4 separate regions of the Homo sapiens genome follow, and all the other regions are linked to region 1. Evidence: fine-mapped expression QTL. A gene starts in region 1. Each other region holds a variant in brackets. All regions are shown on one strand. Distances are from middle to middle. Region 1 holds the start of ABAT (4-aminobutyrate aminotransferase). Region 2 overlaps PMM2 (phosphomannomutase 2). Region 3 overlaps ABAT (4-aminobutyrate aminotransferase). Region 4 overlaps ABAT (4-aminobutyrate aminotransferase).

What was found. PIP is the estimated chance that this variant, and not a neighbour inherited with it, causes the effect.
Region 2: its variant is the best candidate, but not a certain one, in a credible set for the expression of ABAT in fibroblasts (GTEx, PIP 0.69).
Region 3: its variant is the best candidate, but not a certain one, in a credible set for the expression of ABAT in whole blood (TOPMed, PIP 0.90).
Region 4: its variant is the best candidate, but not a certain one, in a credible set for the expression of ABAT in whole blood (INTERVAL, PIP 0.64).

The regions. Positions count from the first base shown.
Region 1 is chr16:8,669,262-8,677,560 of GRCh38, reverse strand. ABAT (4-aminobutyrate aminotransferase) reads right to left here and starts at 2,944. Exons shown (of 16, transcript NM_020686.6): 1 at 2,850-2,944. RefSeq lists a silencer at 2,892-3,351 and enhancers at 2,946-3,445, 3,446-3,947.
Region 2 is chr16:8,836,003-8,842,484 of GRCh38, reverse strand. All of the region lies in intron 7 of PMM2 (phosphomannomutase 2), which reads right to left. Among named protein-coding and RNA genes, the nearest start is that of CARHSP1, 30 kb to the left of the region's middle. RefSeq lists enhancers at 5,501-6,033, 6,034-6,482. The variant A/G (reference allele first, on the strand shown) is at 4,138.
Region 3 is chr16:8,778,916-8,787,214 of GRCh38, reverse strand. It overlaps ABAT (4-aminobutyrate aminotransferase), which reads right to left. Exons shown (of 16, transcript NM_020686.6): 15 at 7,625-7,736; 16 at 2,645-5,906. The coding sequence ends at 5,785. Among named protein-coding and RNA genes, the nearest start is that of TMEM186, 15 kb to the left of the region's middle. The variant G/C (reference allele first, on the strand shown) is at 3,218.
Region 4 is chr16:8,724,426-8,732,724 of GRCh38, reverse strand. All of the region lies in intron 1 of ABAT (4-aminobutyrate aminotransferase), which reads right to left. Among named protein-coding and RNA genes, the nearest start is that of ABAT, 54 kb to the right of the region's middle. RefSeq lists an enhancer at 86-671 and a silencer at 5,332-5,560. The variant G/T (reference allele first, on the strand shown) is at 3,591.

The DNA of each region.
Region 1 (8,299 bases):
ACAGTGCCCAAAATGAGAACCCCTCATCTAGACCTGTCTCTTTTCTGATGTCCAACCCCAACAAACCTCATTCAAAGACGAGGAACTGAGGTTCAGAGACATGAATGACTTGCCTAAGTTTCCATAGACAGCCACTACCAGTGGCCAACTCTCTACTCCATCTGGCTTCAGGGTCTGTGGTCCATTCCACATACTACACTGTCTCTCTAGGAAGACATCCCCTTGTCCCCAGGCACCTTGGCCCTGGCAGATTATCTACGGCAAGGGTTACAAGTTTTGCCTTAAGGCATAAGCACCTCCCCACTTCATGATTAGAGGTTTTATGACTTTGCACTTGTAATCATTGTTTCTGCTCATTTTGCTGTGTGCTAAACATTTTATGAGGATTAACTCATTTTACCCCAAGGATATGTCACAGAGAGGTTAAGATCAGACACTAAGTGGCAGATTTGTGCTCTCGACCCAGATAAGAGGTCTCCAGGGACCAACCTCTCGGCCTCTCTACCGTGGTCCTCCTCATGCTTTGAACTTCGCCTTGGCAAAGTTGGGGCACAACAACCAATCCTTTAGCTGGGAACTGGGTGGGGGCAGAAACAGAGAGAGCCTCTACTTCAGACCATGCTGCCCAGCTGGGTGGTCCTAGAGAATCTGCCAGAATTTCAGCTCTTTTCCCATGCAATGCCCCAGGAGAAAAGACGCAGGCCTCTGAACAGAGATGAGACAATGTGCAGGGAACTCAAAGCCAGAGGGCGTGGGCAGGGGCTAAGAGGGAGGGGACCTTGGAGGGAAGGAATATGACATCCTCAGGACCTGTCCAAAGTTCTTGGAGCAAACCCAGCTATGCAAGTGAGGTTCCTGCAGTAGCCTCCACTCCAGCATCTCATTCTCATTAGCTGCAACTGATCTTATTAGCTATCCTGGGTCAGTTTGGATTTTGGCAAGCCTAGATTTGGCAATGGCCTCAACACAAAGATCGCACGGGGTAAGCAGGGATGCGCTGACACCCAGGAATGGATTCCACGAGGCAGCCTGCTGGGGGATGGCATTGAGTTCCAGCTCTGCCCCTTCCTGGCTTCATGACCTTTGCAGAGCCTTGGCGCTTCCTCTGACAAGTGGGGACTTGGGACCCAGCAGTCCCCAAGTCCCCATTGTAAATGTGAGGACTGGGGCTTGTGTCAGGGATCCTAGCACCTTAAGGGTCCTGGAGGGGTTGGGGCCAGCTGTCTCCCACAGGCTGGGTGACCTTGAGCAAGTCTCTTCCCCTTTTGTGCCTCTGTGTGTTTAACTGTCAAATGAAGGGGCCACGTCTTTAATGCAGAAGCCCTTTTAGGTCTTAGGACTCCAGACTGGACCATTTACCTCTCCCCGTGGCTAACCTCTTTGGGCCTCGAGAAAACACATTTCTCTATGACTCCACGCCGCAACACAGGCTCCAAAGAGCAAGACACAACTCACTGCCTCCCTCTCTCCTGCCTCCCAACCTGACCCACCAGAGAAGAGCTCTTCCCACCCCCTCCCCACCCCCAGGTCACCAACATCCTGTCCCTTAGTCTAGCTTCATCAAAGCAGCAAAGCCAACACTGTCTCCTCCCCAGTGGATGGGCCCAGCAGCACCCATTTCTCTTGGCTGAGTGCCCAGGGAATTCCACCAGGCAATGTCCACAGGCGCTTGCGGGGGTGCACACTTTAGGGGGGAAATGCGGGCCCTCTTGGAAGAGGGCCAGCTGTCCTCCCAGACTGCAAGAGAGAATGCATTGAACACAGCCTTTGTGCGTGTGTTGGGGCAGGGAGCGGGGGAGAGGTGGCGGGTGGTCTCTGCTGGTCCTGCTGCCTCAGAGGCCATCTCTGTTGTCAGAGTTTGAAGACTCCTGGAAGGGCCTCTAGGCCCCAGATCCCAGTTTTAAGAGCTCCAGTCTTACTAAATCTCGCTGAACCCCCTCTAGTCTTACCTTGGCCAGGGTGGGTGAGGAAAGGTGAGAGGATGTGAAATAGGTGGGGCAGCCAGGTGTGGGAGTGGAGTTGGGGTGAGGTGGAGAAGGATGGGATTGGGAGCGGTGGGAGGATGGTGCAGGGGGTTACTAGGATGGGGTTTGTGTGAAAGGGCTTGGGTGGAGTGGAGGGAGGTGGATGACTTGGAGGGGTGGCCAGACCTTTGCCCTGCTCCTGAGTATGAAGGTCCCTCATTTTACATCTTTACTGGGGAGGAGAGGGGAAATCCCCAAAAGCCTTTAATGTGGTGGTGTCAGAGGCCACCCTGCCTCTCTGACGGGTAGGGAGGGGTCTCCGGCAGGGCTAAGGGTGAATCATCTATCTCTCCAGAGCCCAGTATCTGGGGTGGGAGGGTGACTTGCAGAGTCTCTGCTCCGGGATTTCCTTGTCTTATGATGGGGGGAGAGCTTCCATTTGTCATGGAGGGGGAGGTCACTGTAATTTATAAGCTGAGAAGACCCCCATTATTCCGAAAGAGAGGGGAGAAGGAAGACACCCAAACTTAGTTTTCTAAGGATGGGGAAGGGGCATCAGTCTCCCAAGAGGTGAGGGGGCTCTAGAGACCTGGAGACCACTTTTTGGGGCCGCATTCTATTTCAAGCGGTAAAAGGGAGAGGACTTCTGTCTAGAGCTGGAGCCAGGAGGAAGGGCCCATTTCTGAAGGAGAAAGGAAGGTATTTTGCTCTCTGGGGGGTGGGAGCCCCTGTCTTTTCGGGGGAGGGCCCCGCGTCTTGGGAAGATGAGGGCTCCGTTTCCAGGAGAAGATGCCCAGGTTTTGCTCCTGGGGGCAGGGCAGAAGGACCTCCTCTCGGCTCCCCTCGGAAGGGCCCGTCCCAAGCCACCCGGCGCCTCGCGCTCACCTCCAGGCCCCGTCTCCGATCTGCGGGATCCGATCCGCCGGGTTCCGACTTGCGGGATGCGCGCCCCGAGTTCCGGCAGCGCTGGGTGTCTGCTCGACTTCCCCCAGCGACTCGCCGGACTCCCTGGCTCCGCCGAGCGTCCCGGCCAATCAGCGCCGCCAGCCCCGGCCCTCGCTTTCGCCACAGCCAATGGGTGCGCCCGCCACGGGCCACCGCCCCCAGGAGGGAGGTGGCAGGCGGGGCGGGGGCAGAGTCCAGCCTCCGGGGGCGGGGGAGACGGGGGCTGGGGCGGGACCCACCAGAGGGACCGCGAGGGCTGGGAGGGAGTCCTGGGACTGGGGAGGAGACGGCTGAGGACCCCCGTCAAGTTGTGGGGACCCTGACCCTCTGGGGGGCAGCTCCATAGGTTGATTTAACCTGGATCTTAATGGGCCATTTACACCCTCAGGGCTGCAGGCGAGTGTAACTCCACCTCCACCCGCGTCTCGGATCCGGTCTCTGGAGCTCCAGAGTCGGAATCAGAAGGGGTTCCTTTGCGGAGAAGGGAAGGAGCATCCCGCCCTCCCCACCTCACTCCCCATCTCGGCGCTCAGGGCCCTGCCAGCCCTTCTTGCTCCCAGCTACTTTCCTCCGCCTGGCCCCAGCGCTCCGGAAGACAAACAGGGCGCTGGGAGTCAGAGGTGGTTCCTTCTGCATGACCTGGAGCAGGTCACTGCGCCTCCTGATCCTCAATTTCCTGAAATTGGGACAACAGAGATTGTACCTCCTTCGTGGGTATAAACGAGACCCTAGATATGATGAAGGTGCCTTTCTACCGTTGTATAAAATGCTGTGTGGAAGATAATTAATACTCAGGTGTGACGGATGGATAGCCCCCCCACAGCTTTCTAGAGGTATTTGGAAAGAGGATGCAATCTTTCAGTGACAAAATCAAAGACACAAAGAACTGCTCATCAAGACAACAGGCGATCACCAAGTCCTCATAATGAATGAATGGATGGATGGAGAGTACAGACCTTAAAGGCAGAGAAAGAGTTCAGCTTGGTTCTCCCCACTCACCCTGATCACTGATAACTTGGTCTGTGGAGTCTTGTAGAACCCTGAGGTCTCTCCTCCTGCTGTCCAGGAATCCAGGCTGCCCTATCTCTGATTACACAAGCGCTATAGTCCTTGCAATTAAAGAATTAAGATAAAGTAAACACATAGATAAATAGAAAGCTGCCAAACAAATCATTCACCTCCTAGTGTCACCTCTGGGGACCCTCCCCCCCAACACACACACACACACACACACACACACACACACACACACACAGAGCAGTAAATAAGAATAATTGAGGCCTGGCACAGTGGCTTACGCCTGTAATTCCAGCACTTTGGGAGGCCGAGGCAGGCAGATCACTTGATGCCCAGAGCTCGAGACCAGCCTGGCCATCATGGGGAAACCCCCTTTCTATTAAAAATACAAAAATTAGCCTGGCATGGTGGCACCTGCCTGTAATCCCAGCTACCTGGGAGGCTGAGACATGAGAATCGCTTGAATGGAGAGGCAGTGGTTGCACTGAGGTGAGATGGCACCACTGCACTCTAGCCTGGGTGATTGTCACCTTGCTTGAGGAACTTGATGAGGCCTGTGCTGAAAATCTAGCAATTTTTTCTTAAAACCAAAGCCATGAACATAATCCCCTTTACTACCCTTGACCTGCCCAAAGAAATACAACGGCCAATAAACATGGGAGATGACACTTTGAAAAGGAAAGGCAAGTTAAAACCAAAAGAGGGAAAGAGTTTACCTACCAAAATGACCTTGTTTTTATTATTATAATTACTATTCTTTGCAAAGACTTCAAGGAGTTTCATGTATTGATGATGGCAGTAGAAAGATCACAGCCTTTCTGGAGGGAAATTGGGTATTTCTATTTTAAAAATCTTAAAAGTAAGTTGACCCTTTGATCTAGCAATCCAATCCCTATGAACTTATCTGAAAACATTTAAAGGTACAAAGATTTAATGATAAAGTAGCTTACTACCATTTTGTTTATCACAGGGAAAAACTGGGAACAACTTGAATGCACAACAGCAGGGACTCAGAGGGAAATTGTTGCATGAAATTGAACAATAAACATAGGTATGAAATATTGAATGGGGCTGGGTGTGGTGACACGCCTGTAATTCCAGCACTTTGGGAAGCCAAGGCAAGAGGATCGCTTGAGCCAAGGAGTTCAAGACCAGCCTGGGTAACATAGTGAAACCCTGTCTCTACAAAAAATACAAAAATTATCCGGGCGATGTGGCGCATGCATGTAGTCCCAGCTACTCAGGAGACTGAGGCAGCCTTGAGCCTGGGAGGTTGAGGCTGCTGTGGGCCAAGATTACACCACTGTACTCCAGCTGGGTGACAGAGTGAGACCCTGTCTCAAAAACAAAACAAAACAAATCTCAAAATGTTAAGTTATTTGCAAAAACAGTATATTTGGTACTGTCTTACTTTTTGTTAAACATCTTACTTTTTGTTAAATCTACCAGGTAGAGCTAGATCAATGCTGTGTAATATAACTTTCTATGATGCTCTATATCTGTGCCGTCCCGTGTGGTAGCCACTAGCCACATGGAGGTATTGAACACCTGAAATGACTAATTTTGGTATCCAAGATGTTTAAAAAAAAAAAAGAAAGAAAGAAATAATAAAAAAAGGAAAAGGGAAAAATAAATTTAAAATTTTGGAAAAAGCAATGACTAGTTAACCGAATAACTGTATTTTAATTGTATCTATTTATTTATTTTTTTAGAGACGGAGTCTCGCTCTGTCACCCAGGCTGGAGTGCAGTGGTGTGATCTCAGCTCGCTGCAACCTCTGCCTCCCAGGTTCAAGCGGTTCTCCTGCCTAAGCCTCCTGAGTAGTTGGGATTACAAGCGTGCTCCACCACGCCTGGCTCGTTGTTTAATTTTTTAATTTTTAGTAGAGACAGGGTTTCGTCATGTTGGCCAGGCTGGTCTCAAACTCCTGGCCTCCAGTGATCTGCCTGCCTCAGCCTCCCAAAGTGCTGGGATTACAGGTGTGAACCACCACGCCCAGCCTGTATCTAATTTTAATTTAAGGTGTAACAGTAACAGGTAGCTAGTGGCTATCATATTAAAAGGCACCGATATAGCTAGCTAGCAATGCTGAGTGAAAAACTGTGTTCAGTAGGAGAATGGTTATTTTTGTGTATTGAAATTATAGATTATTCTAATATTACTTTATTTGCATGTCCATGTCAGTAATTTCTTTTTATCCCCTTGGGTTTATTTTTAATAGAGGATAAACTTTACAATGTCACTAATTTCTAATTATTCTGTAATGAATATATATTACTCTGGTACTAAGAAGAAAATATTTAAAATGAAAAACAGAAAGGAAAAGTCTAAACCAAAGGGCCCGGAGTGGTGGCTCACACCTGTAATCCCAGTATTCTGGGAGGCTGAGGCGGGCAGATCACTTGAGGCCAGGGGTTCGAGACCAGCCTGGCCAACATGGCGAAACCCCATCTCTATTTATAAATAATTTTTTTTTAAAAAAGAGTCTAAGCCAAAGGTTGACAAACTATAGCTCATAGACCAAATGTAGTTCATCATGTTTTCCTATGACCATGAGCTAAGATTGGTTTTACATATTAAATGGTTAAAAAAATTCACAAGAAGAATAATGTTATGTGACACATAGAAACTACATAAAATTCAAATTTTACTGTGCATAAATAAAATTTTATGGGAACACAGCCAGGCCTATTTATTTATGCATTGTCTATGGCTGTCTGTGAGCTACAACAGCAGAGCTGAGTAGCTGTGACAGAGACTCTGTGACCTGAAAAGACAACAATATTTACCTTCCAGCCCTTTGCGAAAAATCTGCCGTGTCCTGGTCTAAGGCAATCAAGGGAAATAAGAAGTGTGTGTAGCCATCTTCATTCATCTGTTCATTCATTCATTCAACTAGGTTTTGAGCACCCATTTGTGGGTCAGGCCCTAGGAAAGGGCACTTCTAGAGGATAAAAGGAGCTGCTTTGTCTCTACTTAAGGACTAGGGAGAGAAGGCTATTTAGAGCCAGGTGCTTTGCAAGCTGATTCTCAAATAGCTTCATTGTGATACTTGTGAAGAAAACTGTCAGCATGTGGAAAAAGCCCTTTCCATATTGGCTTCCCTTGCATTTTCTGCCATTCTGCAGTTTTCCTATGGAGCTGCTTGGGGTTGCAGCTGTCTGCCAGGGAATGCAGAGTGTTTCCCAGAGTTTGGCTGAGGCCTGGGATGAAGACTCACCCATACTCTGTGCCTATCAATAAGCTCCTTCCAGAAGCGCAGCTGTAGCTGGGAGGGCCCCCACTGCACTCTGGAGAGGAGAAATGAAAACAAAGGCAAGGGTGAATGAGGCTCCAAGGGTACCAGTTGTCTCCACAGGAGAGACTCTTAGAGATCAGCAGCCCATTGTACAGAAGAGGAGACTGAGGCCCAGAGAGGAGGAATAACTTGTCCAGAGCCAGATTAAAGCACATATTTTATTGACTAGGCCTGTGATTTCCACATCCCTGGTCACAAAATAATAAAGAGATATCATCTATACAAAATAATAAAGGGCATTTTGATGTGGTGGAAAGGGGATCAACTTGGGAGTCAGACCTAATATTGAATTCTAGTTCCAACTCCCAATGGCTATGTGACTCTGGACATGTCATTTACTCCCTCTCAGTCTCTATGTTCTAATCTGTAAATTGAATAAAGTATCTACCACGTTTTCACATGTAAAAGAAAGAAGATAGACGCTTACCTCACACCATATAAAAAAACTAACTCAACATTGGATCAAAGACCTAAATAAATATAAGACCTAACACTATAAAATTCTTAGAAGAAAACATGGGAAGGGGGAACAGGTGCAATGGCTCACACCTGTAATCCTAGCACTTTGGGAGCTCCAAGGCTGCCGGATCACTTGAGCCCAGGAATTTGAGACCAGTCTGGGAAACCTGGCAAAACCCCACTGTTAGAAAAAATACAAAAATTAACCAGGTGTGGTGGTGTGTGGCTGTGGTCTCAGCTACTTAAGAGGCAGAGGTGGGAGGATTGCCTGAACCTGGGAGGCAGAGGTTGCAGTGAGCCAAGGTTGTGCCATTGCACTCCACCTAGCCTGGGTGACAGAGCAAGACTCCATCTCAAAAACAACAGCAACAAAAAAGCATTTTGATTGTACTTAATGCCATTGAATTGTACACTCTAAAATGGTAAAAATTGGTGAATTTTGTGCAATGTGTATTTTACCATAATAAGGAAAAAAGTATGTACCACAGTAGGTCATTGGTTGGGTAAGTAAGGGAAGTTTGCTCCTGGTCCCTGCTGGGCACTGTGCATTAGCCCTGTACATAGTTGTACTAGTTTCACCAAACTATCTGCTTGATTGTGAGAGGTGGGCCAGAGC
Region 2 (6,482 bases), 170 kb before region 1:
CAGCTTACCTGGGCTGTGCTGCCACAAGGTTTCAGGGACAGCCCTCATTACTTCAGCCAAGCTCTTTCTCATGATCTACTTTCTTTCCACCCCTCCGCTTCTCACCTTATTTAATATATTGATGACCTTCTTCTTTGTAGCCCCTCCTTTGAATCTTCTCAACAAGACACACTTCTGCTCCTTCAGCATTTACTCTCCAAAGGATATCAGGTATCCCCCTCCAAAGCTCAAATTTCATCCTCATCTGTTACCTATCTCGGCATAATTCTCATAAAAACACACGTGCTCTGCCTGTTGATCTTGTCTGATTAATCTCCCAAACCTCAATCCCTTCCAAAACAACAACTCCCTTCCTTCCTAGGCATGGTTAGTGCGGTCAGAATTCTTACACAACAGCCAGGACCACACCCTGTAGCCTTTCTGTCCAAACAACTTGACCTTACTGTTTTAGCCTAGCCCTCATGTCTGCGTGCAGCGGCTGCCGCTGCTTTAATACTTTTAGAGGCCGTAAAAATCACAAACTATGCTCAACTCACTCTCTACATTTCTCATAACTTCCAAAATCCATTTTCTTCCTCATACCTGATGCATATACTTTCTGCTCCCCGGCTCCTTCAGCTGTACTCACTCTTTGTTAAGTCCCACAATTACCATTGTTCCTGGCCCGGACCTCAATCTGGCCTCCCACATTATTCCTGATACCACACCTGACCCCCATGACTGTGTTTCTCTGATCCACCTGACATTCACCCCATTTCCCCATATTTCCTTCTTTCCTGTTCCTCACCCTGATCACGCTTGATTTATTGATGGCGGTTCCACCAGGCCTAATCGCCACATAGCAGCAAAGGCAGGCTATGCTATAGTACAAGCCACTAGCCCGCCTCTTAGAACCTCTCATTTCCTTTCCATCGTGGAAATCTATCCTCAAGGAAATAACTTCTCAGTGTTCCATCTGCTATTCTACTACTCCTCAGGGATTATTCAGGCCCCTTCCCTTCCCTACACATCAAGCTTGAAGATTTGCCCCCACCCAGGACTGGCAAATTAGCTTCACTCAACATGCCCCGAGTCAGATAACTAAAATACCTCTTAGTCTAAGTAGACACTTTCACTAGATAAGTAGAGGCCTTTCCTACAGGGTCTGAGAAGGCCACCGCAGTCATTTCTTCCCTTCTGTCAGACATAATTCCTCAGTTTAGCCTTCCCACCTCTATACAGTCTGATAACGGACCAGCCTTTACTAGTCAAATCACCCAAGCAGTTTCTCAGGCTCTTAGTATTCAGTGGAACCTTCATATCCCTTACAGTCCTCAATCTTCAGGAAAGGTAGAACGGACTAATGGTCTTTTAAAGGTACACATCACCAAGCTCAGCCTCCAACTTAAAAAGGATTGGACAGTACTTTTACTTCTTGCTCTTCTCAGAATTAGAGCCTGTTCTCGAGATGCTACAGGGTAGGTACAGTCCATTTGAACTTTTATATGGACGCACTTTCTTGCTTGGCCCCAACCTCATCCCAGACACCAGCCCTCTAGGCGACTGTCTTCCAGTCCTCCAGCAGGCTAGACAGGAAATTCGCCAGGCTGCTAAGCTTCTCTTGCCTACTCCAGATCCCCAGCCATATGAAGACACCCTAGCTGGACGATCAGTTCTTGTTAATCTGACTCCTCAAACTCTACAACCTCGATGGACCGGACCCTACTTAGTCATCTATAGTACCCCGACTGCTGTCCGCCTGCAGGATCCTCCCCACTAGGCTCACCGTTCCAGAATAAAGCTGTGTCCATCGGACAGCCAGCCTAATCCCTCCTCTTCCTCCTGGAAGTTGCAAGTACTCTCCCCTACTTCCCTTAAACTCAGTCGTATTTCGAAGAACAGTCATAACCCTTATGAGCCTAATACATCCCTTCATTCTATTAGGTTTTTCGTCCTTACCCTACTTTTTGCAACAGGGCTTTACGAAGTCACCCCCACCACTTAGGCCGAGCCCCAAAAAACTAGTCATCCCTACTATCTTCTGTCTGGTCATACTCCTATTCTCCATTCTCAACTACTTATAAATGCCCTACTCTTGTTTACACGGCCGGTTTACACTGTTTCTTCAAGCCATCACAGCTGATATCTCTTGGTGCTATCCCCAAACTGCCACTCTTAACTCCCTCTTAGAGTGGATAGATGATCTTTGCTGGCAAGGCACCCTCCAATATTTCCACCCTGATGAAGTTCTATTCTTTACTTTTATACTCACTCTTATTCTCATTCCCATTCTTATGCCACCCTCTACCTCTCCCCAGCTATCTCCACCACACTATCAACCTTACCCATTCTCTCCTAGCCGCTTCTAATCCCTCCTTAGTGAACAACTGCTGGCTTTGCATTTCCCTTTCTTCCAGTGCCTACACAGCTGTCCCCACCTTACAGACAGACTGGGCAACATCTCCCATCTCCCTACACCTCCGAACTTCCTGTAACAGCCCTCACCTTTACCCTCCTGAAGAACTCATTTACTTTCTAGACAGGTCCAGCAAGACTTCCCCAGACATTTCACATCAGCAAGCTGCCGCCCTCCTTCACACTTATTTAAAAAACCTTTCTCCTTTCTCCTTTCTCCCCCCATATTCGGACCTCTCACAACACAAACTACTATGCCTGTGGCCGCTCCTATATGTATCTCTCGGCAAAGACCCACTGGAATTCCCCTAGGTAATCTTTCACCTTCTCGATGTTCCTTTACTCTTCATCTCCAAAGTCCAACTACACACATCACTCAAACAATGGGAGCCTTCCAGCTCCATATTACAGACAAGCCCGCTATCAATACTGACAAACTTAAAAACATTAGCAGTAATTATTGCTTAGGAAGACACTTGCCCTGTATTTCACTCCATCCTTGGCTACTTTCCCCTTGCTCATCAGACTCTTCCTCCCAGGCCCTCCTCTTGTTTACTTTTACCCAGCCCCGAAAATAATAGTGAAAGGTTGCTTGTAGATACTCAACGTTTTCTCATACACCATGAAAATCGAACCTCCCCCTCTATGCAGTTACCCCATCAGTCCCCATTACAACCTCTGACAGCTGCCGCCCTAGCTGGATCCCTAGGACTCTAGGTACAAGACACCCCTTGCAGCACTCCTCATCTTTTTACTTTACATCTCCAGTTTTGCCTCGCACAAGGTCTCTTCTTCCTCTGTGGATCCTTTACCTAACATGTGTCTACCTGCTAATTGGACAGGCACATGCACACTAGTCTTCCTTACTCCCAAAATTCAATTTGCAAATAGGAACGAAGAGCTCCCTGTTCCCCTCATGACACCGACACAACAAAGAAGAGTCATTCCACTAATTCCCTTGATGGTCGGTTTAGGACTTTCTGCCTCCACTATTGCTCTCGGTACTGGAATAGCAGGCATTTCAACCTCTGTCATGACCTTCCGTAGCCTGTCTAATGACTTCTCTGCTAGCATCACAGACATGTCACAAACTTTATCAGTCCTCCAGGCCCAAGTTGACTCTTTAGCTGCAGTTGTCCTCCAAAACCACCGAGGCCTTGCTTACTCACTGTTGAAAAAAGAGGACTCTGCATATTCTTAAATGAAGAGTGTTGTTTTTACCTAAATCAATCTGGCCTGATGTATGACAACATAAAAAAACTCAAGCATAGAGCCCAAAAACTTGCCAACCAAGCAAGTAATTACGCTGAACCCCCTTACGCACTCTCTAATTGGATGTCCTAGGTCCTCCCAATTCTTAGTCCTTTAATACCCATTTTTCTCCTTCTTTTATTTGGACCTTGGATCTTCTGTTTAGTTTCTCAATTCATCCAAAACTGTATCCAGACCATCACCAATCATTCTATACAACAAATGTTTCTTCTAACATCCCCACAATATCACCCCTTACCACAAGACCTCCCTTCAGCTTAATCTCTCCCACTCTAGGTTCCCACGCCGCCCCTAATCCCGCTTGAAGCAGCCCTGAGAAACATCGCCCATTCTGTCTCCATACCACCCCCCAAAAATTTTCACCGCCCCAATACTTCAACACTATTTTATTTTTCTTATTAACATAAGAAGGCAGGAATGTCAGGCCTCTGAGCCCAAGCCAAGCCATCGCATCCCCTATGACTTGCACGT[A/G]TACATCCAGATGGCCTGAAGTAAATGAAGATCCACAAAAGAAGTAAAAATAGCCTTAGCTGATGACATTCCACCATTGTGATTTGTTTCTGCCCCACCCGAACTGATCAATGTACTTTGTAATCTCCCCCACCCTTAAGAAGGTTCTTTGTAATTCTCCCCACTCTTGAGAATGTACTTTGTGAGATCCACTCCTGCCCACAAAACATTGCTCTTAACTTCACCGCCTATCCCAAAACCCATAAGAACTAATGATAATCCACCACCCTTTGCTGACTCTCTTTTCGGACTCAGCCCGCCTGCACCCAGGTGAAATAAACAGCCATGTTGCTCACACAAAGCCTGTTTGGTGGTCTCTTCACACGGACGCGCATGAAACACTTCAATCTCTCCCTTAATTTCAATTCCTTTCATTTTCTGGTAGAGACAAAGGAGACACATTTTATCTGTGGACTCAAAACTCCGGCGCCGGTCAGAGACTGGGAAGGCAGCCTTCCCTTGGTGTTTAATCACTGCAGGGACGCCTGATTATTTACCCACGTTTCAAAGGTGTCAGACCATGCAGGGACGCCTGCCTTGGTCCTTCACCCTTAGCGGCAAGTCCCACTTTTCTGGCGGAGAGGCAAGTACACCAACCCCTTCTCTCCGTGTCTCTACCCCTTCTCTGCTTTTCTAGGGGAGGGGTAAGTACCCCAACCCCATGTATCTCTGCGCCCCGATCCCTTATTTCTGCGCCCCAATCTCTTATATCTCTGTGCCCCAATCCCTTATTTCCGTGCCCCAACCCCTTCTCTGCTTTTCTGGAGGGCAAGAACCCCCCACCCCTTCTCCGTGTCTCTACTCTTTTCTCTGGGCTTACCTCCTTCACTATGGGCAAGCTTCCACCTTCCATTCCTTTCTTCTCCCTTAGCCTGTGTTCTTAAGAACTTAAAACCTCTTCAACTCACACCTGACCTAAAACCTAAATAAATGCCTTATTTTCTTCTGCAATTCCACTTGACCCCAATACAAACTCGACAGTAGTTCCAAATAGCCAGAAAACGGCACTTTCAGTTTTTCCATCCTACAAGATCTAAATAATTCTTGTCGTAAAATGGGCAAACGGTCTGAGGTGCCTGATGTCCAGGCATTCTTTTACACATCAGTCCCTTCCTAGTCTCTGTGCCCAGTGCAACTCGTCCCAAATCTTCCTTCTTTCCCTCCCACCTGTCCCCTCAGTCGCAACCCCAAGCGTCGCTGAGTCTTTCTAATATTCCTTTTCTACAGACCCATCTGACCTCTCCTCCTCGCCAGGCTGAGCTAGGTTCCAATTCTTCCTCAGCCTCCGCTCCTCCACCCTATAATCCTTTTATCACCTCCCCTCCTCACACCTGGACCAGCTTACAGTTCATTCTGTGACTGGCCCTCCCCCACCTGCCCAGCAATTTACTCTTGAAAAGGTGGCTGGAGCTAAAGGCATAGTCAAAGTTAATGCTCCTTTTTCTTTATCCCAAATCAGATAGCGTTTAGGTTCTTTTTCATCAAATATAAAAATCCAGCCCAGTTCATGGCTCGTTTGGCAGCAACCCTGACACGCTTTACAGCCCTAGACCCTAAAAGGTCAAAAGGCCGTCTTATTCTCAATATACATTTTATTACCCAATCTGCTCCCGACATTAAATAAAACTCCAAAAATTAGAATCTGGCCCTCAAACCCCATAACAGGACTTAACTAACCTCACCTTCAAGGTGGACAGTAATAGAAAAAAGTGGCAATTCCTTGCCTCCACTGTGAGACAAACCCCAGCCACATCTCCAGCACACAAGAACTTCCAAACGCCTGAACCGCAGCAGCCAGGCGTTCCTCCAGAACCTCCTCCCCCAGGAGCTTGCTACACGTGCTGGAAATCTGGCCACTGGGCCAAGGAATGCCCACAGCCCGGGATTCCTCCTAAGCCGCGTCCCATCTGTGCGGGACCCCATGAAAATCAGACTGTTCAACTCACCTGGCAGCCACTCCCCAGAGCCCCTGGAACTCTGGCCCAAGGCTCTCTGACTCCTTCCCAGATCTCGGCTTAGCAGCTGAAGACTGACACTGCCCAATCCCCTCGGAAGCCCCATAAACCATCACGGACGCCGAGCATCGGGTAACTCTCACAGTGGAGGGTAAGTCCATCCCCTTCTTAATCAATACGGAGGCTACCCACTCCACATTACCTTCTTTTCAAGGGCCTGTTTCCCTTGCCTCCGTAACTGTTGTGGGTATTGACGGCCAGGCTTCTAAACCTCTTAAAACTCCCCAACTCTGGTGCCAATTTAGACATTACTCTTTTAAGCACTCCTTTTCAGTTATCCCCACCTGCCCA
Region 3 (8,299 bases), 110 kb before region 1:
TGAAAGAAACAATGTTATAACAAGACAACTTTGAATGAAATGATGTTTTCGAGGACCTGCCATCCATTTCCAAGAACCTATCTGTGACATTAAGTGAAGACTTACTATTTGTATACTTTTTTTTGTTTCGAGACAAGGTCTCACTCTGTCGCCCAGGCTGGAGTGCAGTGGTGCAATCATAGTTCACTGCAGCCTCAATCTCTTGGGCTCAGGCAATCCTCCCACCCCAGCCTCCCAAGTAGCTGGAATTATAGGCACATGCCACCATGCCAATAAAAATTTTAAAATTTTATTCTTAGTAGAGACAGGGTCTTGCTGTGTTGCCCAAGCTGGTCTCAAACTCCTGAGCTCAGGCGAATTCACCCGCTTTGGCCTCCTGAAGTGCTGGGATTACAGGCATGAGCTACCACACCCAGTCTTGTATGCCTGTTTTTAAGATGAGGAAATTGAAGCTTGGAGAGGTTAAGGGAATCTGCTCCCAATCACACAACTTGAAAGTTAGGATTTGATACACACTGATGTGGAAGGATGCTGTAATATTAGCATGTGGACAGATGTGAGTGTATGTGCACTTGTGTGCAGTCAACTCAGGACTAGCTGAGGGTAGGAACTGTCAATCGCTCAAGGAACTTTCTCTCGGCCAGCCTGGCCATCAGCCTTGGAAGGTCAACTTGACCTGGTCGGCGTTGAGTGTGAGCTCCGACATGCACATTCCTAAGGTAGGTGAGTTGAAGGCACCGGAACTTCAAGGTCAGTAACCCTTTGATGGCCAGGCACGGTGGCTCCCGCCTGTAATCCCAGCACTTTGGGAGGCCAAGGTGGGAGGATCACCTGAGGTTAGGAGTTCGAGACCAGCCTGGCCAACATGGCGAAACCGCATCTCTACTAAAAATACAAAAAAATTAGCTGGGTGATCTGCCCACTTCGGCCTGCTGAAGTGCTGGGATTACAGGTGGGATCCACTGTGCCTGGCCAGTGGCACTTTTCAAAAAGCTCTTTCGGGTGATTCCTAAGCGCGTCCAGCGTTGAGAATCACCGTCCCGGATGCTTTGGATTCTCTACTTTTCTCTCTCTCCGTCCCCATTATTTTCCTAATTCATTCAGGCCACCAGGTGAGCGTGGCTGCAATAGACTCCTAACTGGCCTCCCTGCCTCCCTGTTCTTCACCGTGAACACTCAGGACAACCTTTCTATATATATTTTTTGAAACGGGGTCTCACTCTGTCGCCCAGGCTGGAGTACAGTGGCGTGATCTTGGCTCATCTTAACCTCCGCCTCCCAGCTTCAAGTGATTCTCCTGGCTCAGCCTCCTAAAGTGCTAGGATTATAGGTGTGAGCCACCACGTCCAGCCAGGACAATCTTTCTAAAACACCCCTCGGTTTGCTCCCTTGCATCAAGCCTCTGGCGGCTCCATCACCAGCATGGAAAGCCCACGCCCCTCATGTGGCACAGAAGGCTCTCGAGGGGCCCAGCTCCTGCCTGTTTTCTGGGCTCTTCTAGTCTCCTACTCTTTGTGATCTAGTGATACTGAACTTTTCATAGACGCCTGCTGTCGCCCTGTCTCTGTGCCTTCGTGGACCTCTTCTCTTGTGGAATGCCTTCCATCACTCTGGAGCAGCTTTTGCTCAGCCTTGAAGATGAAACTCAGGGGCTTAACTGCCACCCTGACTGATGTGAGGGGCCCAGCCTTTGTGCCTCTGCTGCATCCAGTGTTTTCCCACGTCCTGCTCCTTACACTGTTTTTTTTTTTTTTGGTTATTTTTTTATTTTTATTTTTTATTTTTCTTTACCTTGCTAGAATGTGAGCTGCGAGGCCAGGCGCAGTGGCTCACGTCTGTAATCCCAGCACTTTGGGAGGTTGAGGTGGGCGGATCACCTGAGGTCAGGAGTTCGAGACCAGCCTGACCAGCATGGTGAAACCTGTATTTACTAAAAATACAAAAAATTAGCTGGGCCTGGTGGCAGGTGCCTGTAATCCCAGCTACTTGGGAGGCTGAGGCAAGAGAATTGCTTGAACCTGGGAGGCGGAGGTTGCAGTGAGCCGAGATCGTGCCATTTCACTCCAGCCTGGGCAACGAGCAAAACTCCATCCAAAAAAAAAAAAAAGGGGGGCCGGGCGTGGTGGCTCACGCCTGTAATCCCAGCACTTTGGGAGGCTGAGGTGGGCGGATCACAGGGTCAGGAGTTCGAGACCAGCCTGGCCAAGACAGTGAAACCTCGTCTCTACTAAAAATACAAAAATTAGCTGGGCGCGGTGGCGAGCGCCTGTAATCCCAGCTACTCGGGAGGCTGAGGCAGCTTGAACCTGGGAGGCAGAGGTCACAGTGAGCCGAGATCATGTCACTGCACTCCAGCCTGGGTGAAAGAACTAGACTCTTGTCTCAAAAAAAAAAAAAAAAAGAATGTGAGCTGCGAGTACGGACCACATGTTGTCCATCCTTGTGTCCCTGTCACATAGCATGTCCTCGATTTACTTAATGAAATGCATGGCCTTACAGTGCTTCCTGATCCCAAGGCAGAGTTATGCATGTAGAGTGTTCCCCAAGACATCCCTAAGAGGTATATAACAGGCATTTAATAAGTACTTGTCACCTAATTATTTAACAAGACCATTTCCACCAAAAAAGTCCACATTCACTCATGTTTCAATTATAAATTTTATTTAAGAATACTGACTAACACAGGAAACAGATTTAATTCATGGAATTGTGCATATGGTCATCCGTTACATTGTGACATGTTAATTTTTTTTTTATCATTTATTGGCACTGTCAACAGATTACTTGTGAACAAGATCACTTTGTACGCTTAAGTCTGCGATGCTACTTAGCTATGGTTTTCTACCATGAGCTTATATATAGATAGGTGTAGGTATGTAGATACATTAATGCTATACACAATTTTGCATGGTTACTGAGCGTCAGTAAAAATTATGAAAAAACACCCATTTATAATAAAAGTGAGGATGTACTAAGACTTGCTATTACTGGACCTTGTTTTCTGTAAAAGTGATGACACTTGCTGGACGGTTACTAAACTCTATGGCACTAATGTATGATGGATTCATTTCCAGACTGTCGGCCACGGAAGCACTTCTTCATGGCCTCTGCCCTGGACAGCAGCCTGTCCTCCGGGCTCCCCATGTTTTTACCAGCTTCTGCTGAGTTTCTACAATCTTGAGCTCTGCTGAGAATTCTTTTCCTTGAAATTCTTCTA[G/C]CTAAAGCCCCAGCCCCCAAAAGAGCATGTCTCAGGAACTCATTATGCCCTGAGTCAACAAGAACTTGTTGATAAATGGCTTAAAAGTTTTTACAAGAAGTAACTTCCCTTGGTAAGGAGTAAATAATAGCTCTGGAATTTTCCAGATAAAACTATTTCATTTCTCTGTCAGTGCCCCATGGGGAGAGAACGAAATATTGGAGCCCCTCTCCCTACCAAAGAGAGCCACTTTTCTGGTTGTGCCCTGGCTTAAAACCCTTTGGACTCCGAGAACCATACTGAATATTTGCACCCAATGCTAAAGTTTTCAGGAGAAAGCATACTTAAGCCAATAAATGAATAATGGTTTGGTTTGCATTTTGCTTGCTTGTTAAATAAGGCCTTATTGAACCTTGGGATGCTGCCTGTGGAAACTGGCTTCCCCAGTGAAAGATGTGATGCCATGAACTGATACGCCTTTGCATATGCTGTTCCCTCTCTGCAACACCCTTCCTTGCCTTGCCTGCTTGGTGAACTCTGGCTCATTCTGCAAAACACTGCTCCAATGACACCTTTTCTTTGAAACCTCCTCTGACCCTTGGGTGAATGGTGGTTCTCCATCCGATTTCCTGATGCTTTTATTCACACCTCTGTCATAGCACTTGGCGCCTGCTTGAATTGTTAGTTTAAGAGTCTGTTGTTTCCAGTGGCATGTGAGCCCCCGGGGGCAGGGACAATGTTTTATCTCATCTTTGTATTCCCGATGCTCCGCACAGGGCCTGGGATGGTGCAGCTATTTAATGAAAGTTAGGTGAATGAATGAATGATGAATAAATGAATATAAAAATGAGGAAAACCTTGCAGAGAGTGGGAGGCATACATCACCACTTGGCTGGGAGTGCAGGTGACCTTAAACCTGGCAGAACTCCTGATTAAGAACGACGGATTAGCACTGACTGCAGGAATGCAAAATGAACAAGAATTCACGAATTTGTATATGTTAAACTTGTCATTGCCTTTCATTCTTCAACAAAAATAGGTCGATGACCAAGTCTGCGGAAGAGTGGAAGCTAAAAAAAAAAACCCTTACTTTGAGATCTTTGGACGATTTGTTATTAAAAGAGCAAAGTGCTGAATCAGGAACCTTGATATGCCTATTTCCAAAATAGTCAACCAAGGCACCGGGAGATGAAGAGGCTTCCTTTTGGACAGATAATACAAGCCAGGCTTTCTCAGACTCCCCACCAAATAATACTTCTCTGCTGTCAGGCTATCAAGTTCTCTTTTAGGAGCATTCGAGGTCAAATCAGTTCCCAGAGTGTCTCACCTCCAGCAGAGATGCTACAGCCTCAGCCACAGCCCCTTTAAGCATTTCGGTATCATCTGCCTGGTAATCTCCATACTCAGTCATCTCAGGAAAATCTCTCATTTCAGGAGGATCAAGTACAAGGAAACCACGTTGAACCAACAGGCCACTTTTCCATGCATGGAGCTCTGGCACCTTTAATTCATGGTGCTTCCCTCCAGAAGAAATCCAGTCCAGCAATGATTCCCTCTGCTCTGGTGGAACAGCCAAGCTGTTCCTGGGGGTCAGCTCACAAGTGGTGTGAAGGTGGATGAGCAAAAGAGAGGAAGAGCCTCTTAGGGCGAGGGAGCCAAAAGTCAGACCTCAAGTTGCCCTGGGAAACATGATGCGATGGCTCTGCTGCCCCAGACCCTGGGCTTTTCCTCCTGGGGTGACGGGCCTGTGCTTCTAGCCCTGTGGCTCACGTGTGTCCCTGTGGACACTCAGGCTACAGTTTCCTCCCACCCAGGTCCAGGTCTAGGTTGACATTTAACAGGGAGGAGGGAGTTTGGGGAATGGAGGATGCCGAGTAAGAATCACGGGTAAGGCCACCTGGGGATCCTCCAAGGGCAAAGCCCTGTCCAGGGCAGAATTCACAGTTTAGGGGGATCCCCAGGTGCACTGAGAGGGGTGATTCTCATCTTCAGGGGGCCAGAGGACCTCTTCCCTTACTCCTGAGCTGAATCCTCCTGTCCCCATTTTACGGCCTTCCTCAGATCTGTCCAGTCCCTCCTGCACCATGCGTGGGGCGTGCTCAGAGCTCCGGGAGGCTGGGAGAGGAGGTGAGAGTGTGTTTGCTTGCATAGGGCGAGGGGGAGCCAACATCCGTGATCACAGAATATGGCACTTGAGATGGACTGGCACCCAGGAGGCCCAGCTGCCAGTCCCAGGAACAAATGTAATGCCCTTGACTGGCTTTTGGAAAAATTGCTGGGGTTGGTCAAGGTTGGGCAGAACTCTAGCCAGGACCTCCCATGGCCCTTCCCAAGATGAGTCCAGGGCTCAAGCAGGATCTCTGGGCTTAAACCAATGTGCACCATTGGCTCTGCAGGGAGGAAAATCAACACCAGCCCTTCCCTCCCCTCCCCTCCCCCAAGACCACCAAAAATGCTCCCTCCCCACAAATCACCCTTCACTGTGCATTCACCTCTGATACTTTTAAGTGAAAACATGAATTAGGCAAACTAATCAATTTGACAACTGTTGGGATCCGGGCTTTCTCACTGTAGTGGAAATGGCTTCTTTACTTGAAGTCTGCTAAGATGTCACTGAAAATATTGAGGAACAGGTGAGCGTGGTGATCCCTGAAGACCAGCGTGGGACGGAAACGAATGGATTTGTCACCACAGCCACCCAACACCACACCTGAAAGAGGCAGGAGGTAGGTGAGGAGCGTGGTTTCTCAAAGTCACATGCTGGGAGAGCTGGGGGGAAAGTGATGCCTGTTGGCAACGCTCATCCATCCATCCATCCATCCATCCATCATCCTCCATCATGGAAGCCCGGGCTTCCTTCCTACCACCCACCCATCCAGTCTTCATTTCCTTTCTCTCTCCCCTCATTCATCTCCTCCATCATTCTCTTCTTCCTTTCCTTCCCTCCACACTTCCTTTTTCCCTTCCTCCCTCCCTCTCTCCTTTGAGTGCCTGCTTTGCTGCCCCAAGCTAGGTCTGGTGATAGAGAAATCCTGAGATAAAGTCCTTGCCTTCCACAAAGTCATGGAGGAGTGGGAAAAGAAAATAGGTAAGCAAATAAGTTGCAAAAGCACAGGCTGAGTCGGAAGCATGTGTGAGGTGCTGAGCTATTACGGAGGAGGGACAGGCTCTGCTTATTTTAAAGGGTGACTTCACAGTTACAGCTGGTGTCCTTTCCTTGTCGAGGTTGTTTATGCCTTTTTTTTTTTTTTTTTTAGAGATGGAGTCTCGCGCTGTCACCCAGGCTGGGGTGCAGTGGCAACCCAGTCTCACTCACTGCAACCTCCACCTCCCAGGTTCAAGCCATTCTCCTGCCTCAGTCTCCCAAGTAGCTGGGATCACAGGTGCCGCCACCACGGCCAGCTAATTTTTGTATTTTCAGTAGAGATGAGGTTTTGCCCCGTTGGCCAGGCTGGTCTCGAACTCCTGACTTCAGCTGATCTGCCCACGTCGGCCTCCCAAAGTGCTGGGATTACAGGCGTGAGCTACTGCACCCGGCCTGTTTATGCCTTTGAGACCACGTTTTCTCATTTTTAAAATGGAGGTTGATTATCCCTGCCCTTCTGAGGCTGCTGCAAGGATTCTGTAAGATGGCACAAGAAGAACTGACAATGTGCCTGACATAGAGTACGTGCTCTGATCTCACCACAGCGTCTGCCCTTACCCCTGCCACACATGTCCTCAGTGGCTTCCCACAGCTCCTAGGATGAAGTCTGGAGTGCTAAGCCTGATCTGCAGGCCCATGCGACCCGGGCCTGGCCTCTCCTCCCCCAGCTTCATCCCCTCCCAACCGTTCGCCTTCACGCCCCCTTCTTTCCCTTTTACCACCTCTGTAAGCTCCATCCCACCTCAGGCCATCGCATGCACCCTTCCCTCCGCCCAGAATGCTCTTCCTTACCTTCTTCACCCAGCCAATCCCTGTTTGTCAAGACTTAGGGTAAAATGCTACTTCCTCAAGGGAGCCTGCCCTGATTTCCTACCCTCACCAACTGCTGCAGCTATCTGCTCTCTTAGCTGCGTTTTCTCCTTCCCAGGACTTAAAATTGCAATGGATTGGTTGTGAAATGCCATGTGTAAAGCCATGCCTTCCTGCTACACTGCATGCTTCCTGAAGGAAGGGGCTCTGATGGTCTTCATCATCACTGTAACTGTCTCCAGTGTCCACTTACAACTCACCTCCTCAGCGAACGCTTGTTGAGTAAATAAATGGATAAAGAAATCCCATTTGTAATGTTCTCTTCTTTGGAGAAAGAGCATTCAGGCTCTTTTCAGACCTGTGTACCACCTGCCCCCCACACAAAATATTGCTGAGTACCTAGCAACATGTGGCAGCTACAGCAGGAGATACTGGATGCTCATGAAACTCAGCAGCCACTCCTGACCCCTTACCTTTGTTTCTGGCAATTAAAATGAGCTTATTCCGTATGGAATCATCGGGAGTATCGAAGGAGCAAAAGGTGCCTCGTCCTCTCACCCTGCTGATGAACTGGGGGTACCGGGCCTGTAGTGGGAGGAGACAAGGCTGGCGTCAAAGCCCATCACCTGTGTACCAGCTGGGCTTAATGGCTGTGCTTCGTCAAAGGCCTCCCATGGTCCAGCCTCGGCCTCTGCATGGACTGGCAGGACCTCCAGGGGGTTAAGAGCTCTGGGGACATTCAGGCCTGGGTTCAAAGCCCAGCTGTGCACATGTGTGTTGTGTGGAGGAAAAAAACCACCACCACCACCACCAGCAACAACAACCAAGCCCAGCTCTGTCCCTCTCACTGTATAACCTTGGGCCACTCAAGTGCCTCTGTTTACCCTGCTATAAACTGAAGGATTTAAATGCTGTTGACCCCACTGGGGCCGTGGTGAGACTTTAGCACGATAAGGTTCACATGTTAAGTCCTAAGCCTGGGGCTGGGCACTTGGTGGATGCTCCACAGATGTTAGCCATCTCCATCGTCAGCTCTTCTAGAAAGGTGGTTCTTCTGGAAGAAGAAATGCCTGTCCTCCCTCAGGGCTTTGAGACTGGGAGCTGTACTGGATTGAATAGTTTCCTCCCACTGCCCCCTAAATTCATGT
Region 4 (8,299 bases), 55 kb before region 1:
TTGAGAACGGGCCAGGATGACAATGGCGGTTTTGTGGAATAGAAAGGCGGGAAAGGTGGGGAAAAGATTGAGAAATCGGATGGTTGCCGTGTCTGTGTAGAAAGAAGTAGACATGGGAGACTTTTCATTTTGTTCTGTGCTAAGAAAACTTCTTCTGCCTTGGGATCCTGTTGATCTGTGACCTTACCCCCAACCCCGTGCTCTCTGAAACATGTGCTGTGTCCACTCAGGGTTAAATGGATTAAGGGCGGTGCAAGATGTGCTTTGTTAAACAGATGCTTGAAGGCAGCAGGCTCGTTAAGAGTCATCACCACTCCCTAATCTCAAGTACCCAGGGACACAAACACTGCGGAAGGCCGCAGGGTCCTCTGCCTAGGAAAACCAGAGACCTTTGTTCACTTGTTTATCTGCCGACCTTCCCTCCACTATTGTCCTATGACCCTGCCAAATCCCCCTCTGTGAGAAACACCCAAGAATTATCAATAAAAAATAAATAAATTAAAAAAACAAACAAACAAAAAAAAAAAACAAAAAAAACCTAAAGTAGTCAACCTCCTAGAAACAGATAGAGGGTCTGGGCATGGTGACTCATGCCTCTAATCCCAGCACTTTGGGAGGCCGAGATGGGTGGATCACTTGAGGTCAGGTGTTCAAGACCAGCCTGGCCAACATAGTGAAACCCCGTCTCTACCAAACATAAAAAATTACCCGGGCGTGGTTGTGAGCTCCTGTAATCCCAGCTACTTGGGAGGCTGAGGCAGGAGAATCACTTCAACTCGGGAGGCAGAGGTTACAGTGAGCTGAGATCGCACCACTGCACTCCAGCCTGGGCGACAGGGCGAGACTCTGTTTCAAGGAGGAAAAAAAGAGAAACAGAAAAAGAGGAAAAAGAGGTTGCCGAGGGCTGGGGGAAGGGAAAAAAGGACATTGTTTAGTGTGTTTGGAGTTTCAGTTTGCAGGATGAAGTAGTTCTGGAGCTTCACTATACAACAAAAGTGCTTATAATACCGTACTGTATACTTGAAAATGGTGAAGATGGTAAATTTTATGTTATCTGTGTGATTTTTAAAATAACAATTAAAAAAAAAAAAAGAAAAGTGATCCAGGAAAGACATTGGTGTTGAGGTTGACATACCTATCAAGGACAACTAGACAACTACCACGGCTTCCAGTGCTTTGACAAAACTCAGGTGTGTGGCCTTCTGGTCCAGAGTCTGCCATTTCACATTGTTGGAGCAGTCATTGTATCCCTGAGAGTTGCAGCTCTCTATAAGTTTGCTGTGGCTGAACCAAGAAACAAGGCATATGTAGAAGCGATGAGGATGGCTGTTATTGTTCAGAGTGCAAAGTGATTTTGGAATATAAAGAATTTCTTTGGGTTGAGTTACCTAGAAGTTTATCACTGACCTGTGTTCCTGAACTATGAAACATGAATATGGGGGCTAAGAAATAGTTTCTCTTTGGGCTGGCAGGGTGGCTCACTCCTGTAATCCCGGAATTTTGGGAGGCCAAGGCAGGTGGATCACTTGAGGTCAGGAGTTCGAGATCAGCATGGCCAACACAGTAAAACCCTGTCTCTACTAAAAATACAAAAATTAGCTGGGTGTGGTGGTGCACGCCTGTAATCCCAGCTACTCAGGAGTCTGAGGCACAAGAATCGCTTGAACCTGGGAGGCGGAGATGGCAGTGAGCCAAGATCACACCACCGCACTCCAGTCTGGGTGATAGAGTGAGACACCGTCTCACACACAAAAAATTAGAAATAGTTTCTCTTGATAAATAAACAATTAATGAGTACTTTGGACAGTAAACAAAGTAAAACTATTTTTTTTAAAAGAAGCCATGTGGTTTACCCAGGACACAGCAAGTTGCTGGTGGAGCCAGCGTTGGGGTTGAGAGATATCTGGCTCAGGAGTCCTGGCTTGTGCCTAATGCATGGATTTATTGCGAGTTGCAACACCTGAAACTTACTCTGTGACAGACCCTGGGGACGCAGCCCTTTCCTCATGCAGCCCTGGCTTGGGCTGCCTAACTCTACCCAGCCCCACAGTGGACAGAAATTCCATCCTAGACCTGGATGAAGACCAAGAGGCTTCTCCCACCCCCTGCTTCTGTGATGACAGCATATAGGAAGTGCCAACCAGAGGTGATAAATACAGACCTAGAGAGATCCCACAGCTGGAGGGGAGGCCTGTATCCAAGGAGAGAGAACAGGGCAAGGAGGAATGACAGGCGGGTTCAGAGTACAGGTTCAGGTGCTGGGAAACACGTGGGCTCAGCAGCACAGGGCAGGAATAGTGTGGAGAATCAGGCACCGAGCCCAGGATGGCGAGTTCCAGCACGCTGTGGCTGCCCACAGAGCTAATAGAATGTTGGCTGTATTATTAGAAGGAAAGAGTGAATGAAGGAGGGAGGCGGTTGCCATTGATGCATTTGTGCTACGAACATTCATGGTACACCTACCGTGTGCCAGACCCTTCACTGGGCACTAGGGCACATAAAGATCAATTAGAGGCCGTCCTTACCCTCTAAGCATCATCAAGTACTGGGCACTTGCTATGTGCAGGCTCTCAGCTGGTGCTGTAGAACCATCTCGTTTCATCCCCAGAGCCCTAGGAGGCAGCTCCTAGAAGACAGAGACAGGTCATTATCCTGTCTTCAGGCAACTGAGGTACTATCACGGGTGGGGTGGGGTTGGTGCAGGAAGTATCTTCTGGGGTGTCTGCTCTGCACTTCCTTCCTCCCCCTTCTCAGATACTTCCCCATTCCTCTGCGGGGGCATAGACCTGGCCCTACTGGCCATGGTTGACTAGACAGGGCTGGGCCAGAGTCCTGACACTCTCTACCCACTGAGATGATCCAGCATTCAAACAGGGTCTTTTTTTTTTTTTTTTTTAAGACAAAAAAGGGCTAGACAAAAGAAAGACTAGAGAGCAGTGGCGTGATCATTGCTCACTGCAGCCTTGAACTCCTGGGCTCAAGAGATCCTCCCACCTTAGCCCTGCCAAGTAGCTGGGACTACAGGCATGCACCACCATACCCAGCTAATTTTTAAATATATATATTTTTTAGAGACAGGGGTCTCGCTGTGTTGCCCAGGCTGGTCTCAAACTCCTGTGCTCAAATGATCCTCCCATCTTGGCTCCTGAAGTGCTGGGATTATAGGCATGAGGCATGGTGCCTGGTCTTTGTGAGACATTCTGAAGGGTACATTACTCCCTTCTCTTTGCTCAAACATCTATAGGAGTAGGGTAATCTCCCTGTTCAGAGATGATAAAAGGGAGGCTCAGAGAGGTTATGACATTCGGCCTCAGTCATAGGCTTACCTGAGACTGTCTGACCCCAAAGCCCCTGCCTCTATGCATTGTAACATCAGTTAATCCAGCTAATAACAAAACTCCTAGCTGTTTTTGTTTTTGTTGAGACAGGGTCTGGCTCTGTCACTCAGGCTGGAGAGCAGTGGTGTAATCTTAGCTTACTGCAACCTCTGCCTCCCCCAGGGTCAGGCCATCCTGCCACCTCCCAAGTACCTGGAACTACAGGCGAACGCCGCCACGCCCAGCTAATTTTTTTTTTTTTCAGTAGAGCCA[G/T]GTTTTTCTCACGTTGTGAAGGATGGTCTTGAACTCCTGAGCTCAAGTAATCTGCCTGCCTTGGCCTCCCAACGTGCTGAGATTACAGGCGTGAGCCACCGTGCCCGGCCCCTAGCTATTGTTGATATGAGGCTTCATGAATAAAAATGACGTAGTTCACAGAATAAATTTTATTGCTTTTCACCAGAGGAAACTTTCTGAGAAAGTGTGGGCTTGGAAAGTGTGGCCATGAATTAACTGAGAAACCAAACTCTTTGTTTTTGAGATGGAGTCTTGTTCTGTTGCCAGGCTGGAGTACAGTGGCGTGATCTCGGCTCACTGCAACCTCTGACTCCCTGGTTCAAGCGATTCTCCTGCCTCAGCCTCCCGAGTAGCTGGGATTATAGGCATGTGCCACCACACCTGGCTAATTTGTGTATTTTTAGTAGAAATGAGGTTTTACCATGTTGGCCAGAAGGTTCTCAATCTCCTGACCTTGTGATCCACCCGCCTCTGCCTCCCAAAGTGCTGGAATTACAGGTGTGAGCCACTGTGCATGGCCCAAACTCTTTTCTTAATAACTCAATGGATTTTTTTTTTCTATTCCAGGATATCCGACTCAATGCAAGCCTATTAATTTAGCAACAGAGTAACTGTGTAGAAAGTGCAGTTCATGTCTTTCCCTTAAAACCACTTGTCTGAAACAGGGAGCACTGAGGCGTCACACAATTCAATTTCCATTAAACACGTTTTTGAAACTCCGAATGTCTCAGAGAACTCAACATTTGAATATTCTGCAAAAGTGAGAGCCAATCCCACACGTTTTCAATTACAAAATGTCACATTGGAAAATATACCGTGGTGACATTTTGGTGGCCTGCAGTTGAAAATTGACCTTATAACAAAATCTGATCTCTGTTAGACATTAATTCTTAGCACAATATATTTCAAACAATTGGAAGAGTTAACGTCATTCATTCACTCCCTCTCATCCACTAATTCAATCAACACAAGTTAATTAGGCACCTGTTATCAGCAAGGCACTGCATCGTTTAGATATAATCAATCTCTCTCTCTCTCTCTCTCTGACAGGGTCTCACTCTGTCGCCCAGGCTGGAGTGCAGTGGGGCGATCAGGGCTCACTGCAGCCTCTATCGCCCGGGCTCTAGCAATCTTCCCATCTCAGCCGTCCAAGTAGCTGGGACTACAGGCATGTGCCATCATGCCTGGCTAATTTTTTTAAATTTTTAGTAGAGATGAGGTCTTGCTATTTTGCCCAGGCTGGTCTCAAACTCTTGAGCTCAAGTGATCCTACCATCTTGGACTCCCAAACGGTTGGGATTACAGGCATGAGCCACCGCTCCTGGCCAAGTCATCACTTCTCTTAGGAGAAACCAAGATGGATAAATTGCTTTCTTTCTGAAGCTCATAATTTAGTGGCAGAGAACTATGAGCGGAAAGAAAATGGAAGAATTTAATGTACTAGGCTGCTTTACCCATCATGTGAATACTTTCTTAAAATAACTCAGCATGATATGTACATAAAAATTTTCCAGTTCACTGTCAACAACAAATTCTGCATAAGATAGAACAGAATCACAACTATTTTGCTGGTGTGAGTGAAGTGCTAAGGGAATACGGGGAGATTCTTTCTGGCTGGGGTGACAATGTCAGGGAGGTGTTGCCTGAGCTGCATCTTCAAAAGTTAGGCGATTTCAGAAGGCAATGAAGAAAGCAGGGATAAGGCAAGTGCTCGGAGGTGTATGATGACACGGAGTAGCTAAGGATCCTGGTGCACAGTGAGAGTGGGTGTGGTAAGAAATCATAGAGCACTTGGAGGGAAGGTGAAGGTGCGGTCATCTGGAGCCAACTCGAGCAACAATTTCTAGGCTGATCTTGATTGATAGGGCCCTCTGGAGACCCTCTCAAAGGGAGGAGGGAGCCCAGCTGCTCTAGTTGCATCCAGAAGGGTCTGTCCTCCAGCAAAGGATACAACCAACAAAGCGAAGAGGCAACCCACAGAACAAGAGAAAATATTTACAAACTACTCCTCTCACAAGGGATTAATAACCAGAATATAAAAAGGAGGTCAAACAACTCTATAGAAAAAAATCTCATAATTCGATCAAAAAATGGACAAAAGATTTGAATAGATATTTCTCAAAAGAAGACATACAAATGGCAAGCAAGCACATGAAAAGGTGCTTGACATCACTGATCATCAGAGAAGGCAAATCAAAACTACAAAGAGCTGTCATCTCACCCCAGTTAACATGGCTTATATCCAAAAGACAGGCAATAACAAATGCTGGAGAGGATGTGGAGCAAAGGGAACCCTTGTACATTGTTAGTGGGAATGTAAACTAGTACAACCACTATGGAGAACAGTTGGAGGTTCCTCAAAAAACTAAAAATTGAGCTACCATATGATCCAGGAATCCCACTGCTGGGTAAATACACAAAAGGAAGGAACTCAGTATATCGAAGAGATATCTGCACTCCTATGTTTGTTGCAGCATTGCTTACAATAGCTAAGATTTGGAAGCAACCTGAGTGTCCAATAACAGATGAATGGATAAAGAAAATGTGGTTCATACACGCAATGGAGTACTATTCAGCGCAGTGGCTCACACCTGTAATCCCAGCACTTTGGGAGGCTGAGGCAGGTGGATCCCATGAGGCCAGCCTGGCGAACATGGCTAAACCCCATCTCTACAAAAAACAAAAATCATCTGGGTGTGGTGACCCATGCCTGTAGTCCCAGTTACTAGGGAGGCTGAGGCAGGAGAATCGCTTGAACCCGGGAGGCAGAGGTTGCAGTGAGCCGAGATGGCGCCACTGCACTCCAGCCTGGGCAACAGATCGAGACTCCATCTCAAAAAAAAAAAAAAAAGATCTAGTCATTTGCAACAACGTGGATGGAACTGGAGATCATCATGTTAAGTGAAATAAGCCAGGCACACAAAGACAAGTGGCATGTGTTCTCACTTATTTGTGGGATCTAAAAATCAAATCAATTGAAGTCACGGGCATAGAGAGTAGAAGGATGGTTACCAGAGGCTGGGAAGGGTAGTGGCGGGTTGAATGGGAGGTGGATAGTTAATGGGTACAAAAAAAATTAGAAAGAATAGAAGGGTCTGTGTTTAGGCAGGCTCCCAGGGAGGGGCAGGGAGCATGCACTCAGCATGTCAATGAGATGCTGGGGTCACTGAGCTGGGGAGGGGGTTCTCGAGGCAGGTGTGTTGGAGGGCACCCACTGGGGTGGGAGTTGATGAGGAGTAAGAAGGCAGGGATTAGCTCTTAAACCCTCAGTCCTAGAGTTGGCATGGCCTTTTAAGAATTACAAGTTCCTCAAAAAGTTAAGCATAGAATTACTACTACATGACCCAGCAATTCCACCCCTAAGTACTAGGTTGGTGCAAAAGGAAATGACCTTTGCATCAACCCAAAGAACTGAAAACAGAGACTCAAACAAATACACATAGCAGCACTATTCACAAGCGCCGAAAGGTAGAAAAAGCCCAGATGTCGATCAGTGGATGAATGAATAAACAAAACATGGTCTATCCTTACAACGAAATATTATTCAGTCATAAAAAGGAATGAAGTTCTGACACATGCTACAACATGGATAAATCTCAAAATATTTTTTATGCTATATGAATGAATGCAGAGGTAAAATGCCCCATAGTCTACGAATCCATTTATAGGAACCTTCAAGAGTAGGTGAATCTACAAAGACAGAAAATAAATCAGGGGTTGGCAGGGGCCTGGGAGGAATGAGAGATGACTGCTTAATGGGTACGGGGGTCTCCGGGGTGATGAAAAAAATCTGGAATTAGATAGCGGTGGTGGCTGCACAGCATTGTGGATGTTCTAAAAGGGTCTGAGTTTTCACTTAAAAAGGTTAATGTTATGTTTATCTTAATAAAAATGAAAAAGCCAGGCGCGCTGGCTCACGCCTATAATCGTAGCACTTTGGGAGGCCGAGACGGGTAGATCACCTGAGGTCAGGAATTCGAGACCAGCCCGACCAACATGGAGAAACCCCGTCTTTACTAAAAATACAAAATTAGCCGGGCGTGGTGGCAGGCGCCTGTAATCCCAGCTACTTTGGAGGCTGAGGCGGGAGAATCGCTTGGACCCGGGAGGCGGAGGTTGCGGTGAGCCGAGATGGCGCCACTGCACTCCAGCCTGGGCAACAGAGTGAGACTCCATCTCAAAAAAAAAAAAAAGAAAAAAGAGATATTGGAGTTGGCTGTCTTTTGTAGATGGGAAGGGAGAGGACCAAAGAAGTGTGTGTAGAGTAATGACACACTCTGATCACACAGACTTATTCTTCAATTTCCACCTGCTACAGGCTGTGTGACCCCAAGATTGCCATTGTTTTTTTTTTTTTTTTTTTTTTTGTTTTTTTTTTTTTTCCTGAGACAAGGTCTGGCTCTATTGCCCAAGCTGGAGTGGAGTGGTGCCATCTCAGCAACCTCTGGCTCCCAGGCTCAAGTGATCCTCCCATCTCAGCCTACCGAGTAGCTGGGACTATAAGCACATGCCACCACACCTGGCTAATCTTTGTATTTCTTTTTTGGAGAGATGGGGTTTCACCATGTTGCCCAGGCTGATCTTGAACTCCTGGGCTCAAGCAGTCCTCCCACCTTGGCCTCCCAAAGTGCTGGGATTACAGGTGTGAACCACCATGCCTAGCTGAGAGAAGCTAATTTTCTGTGCAG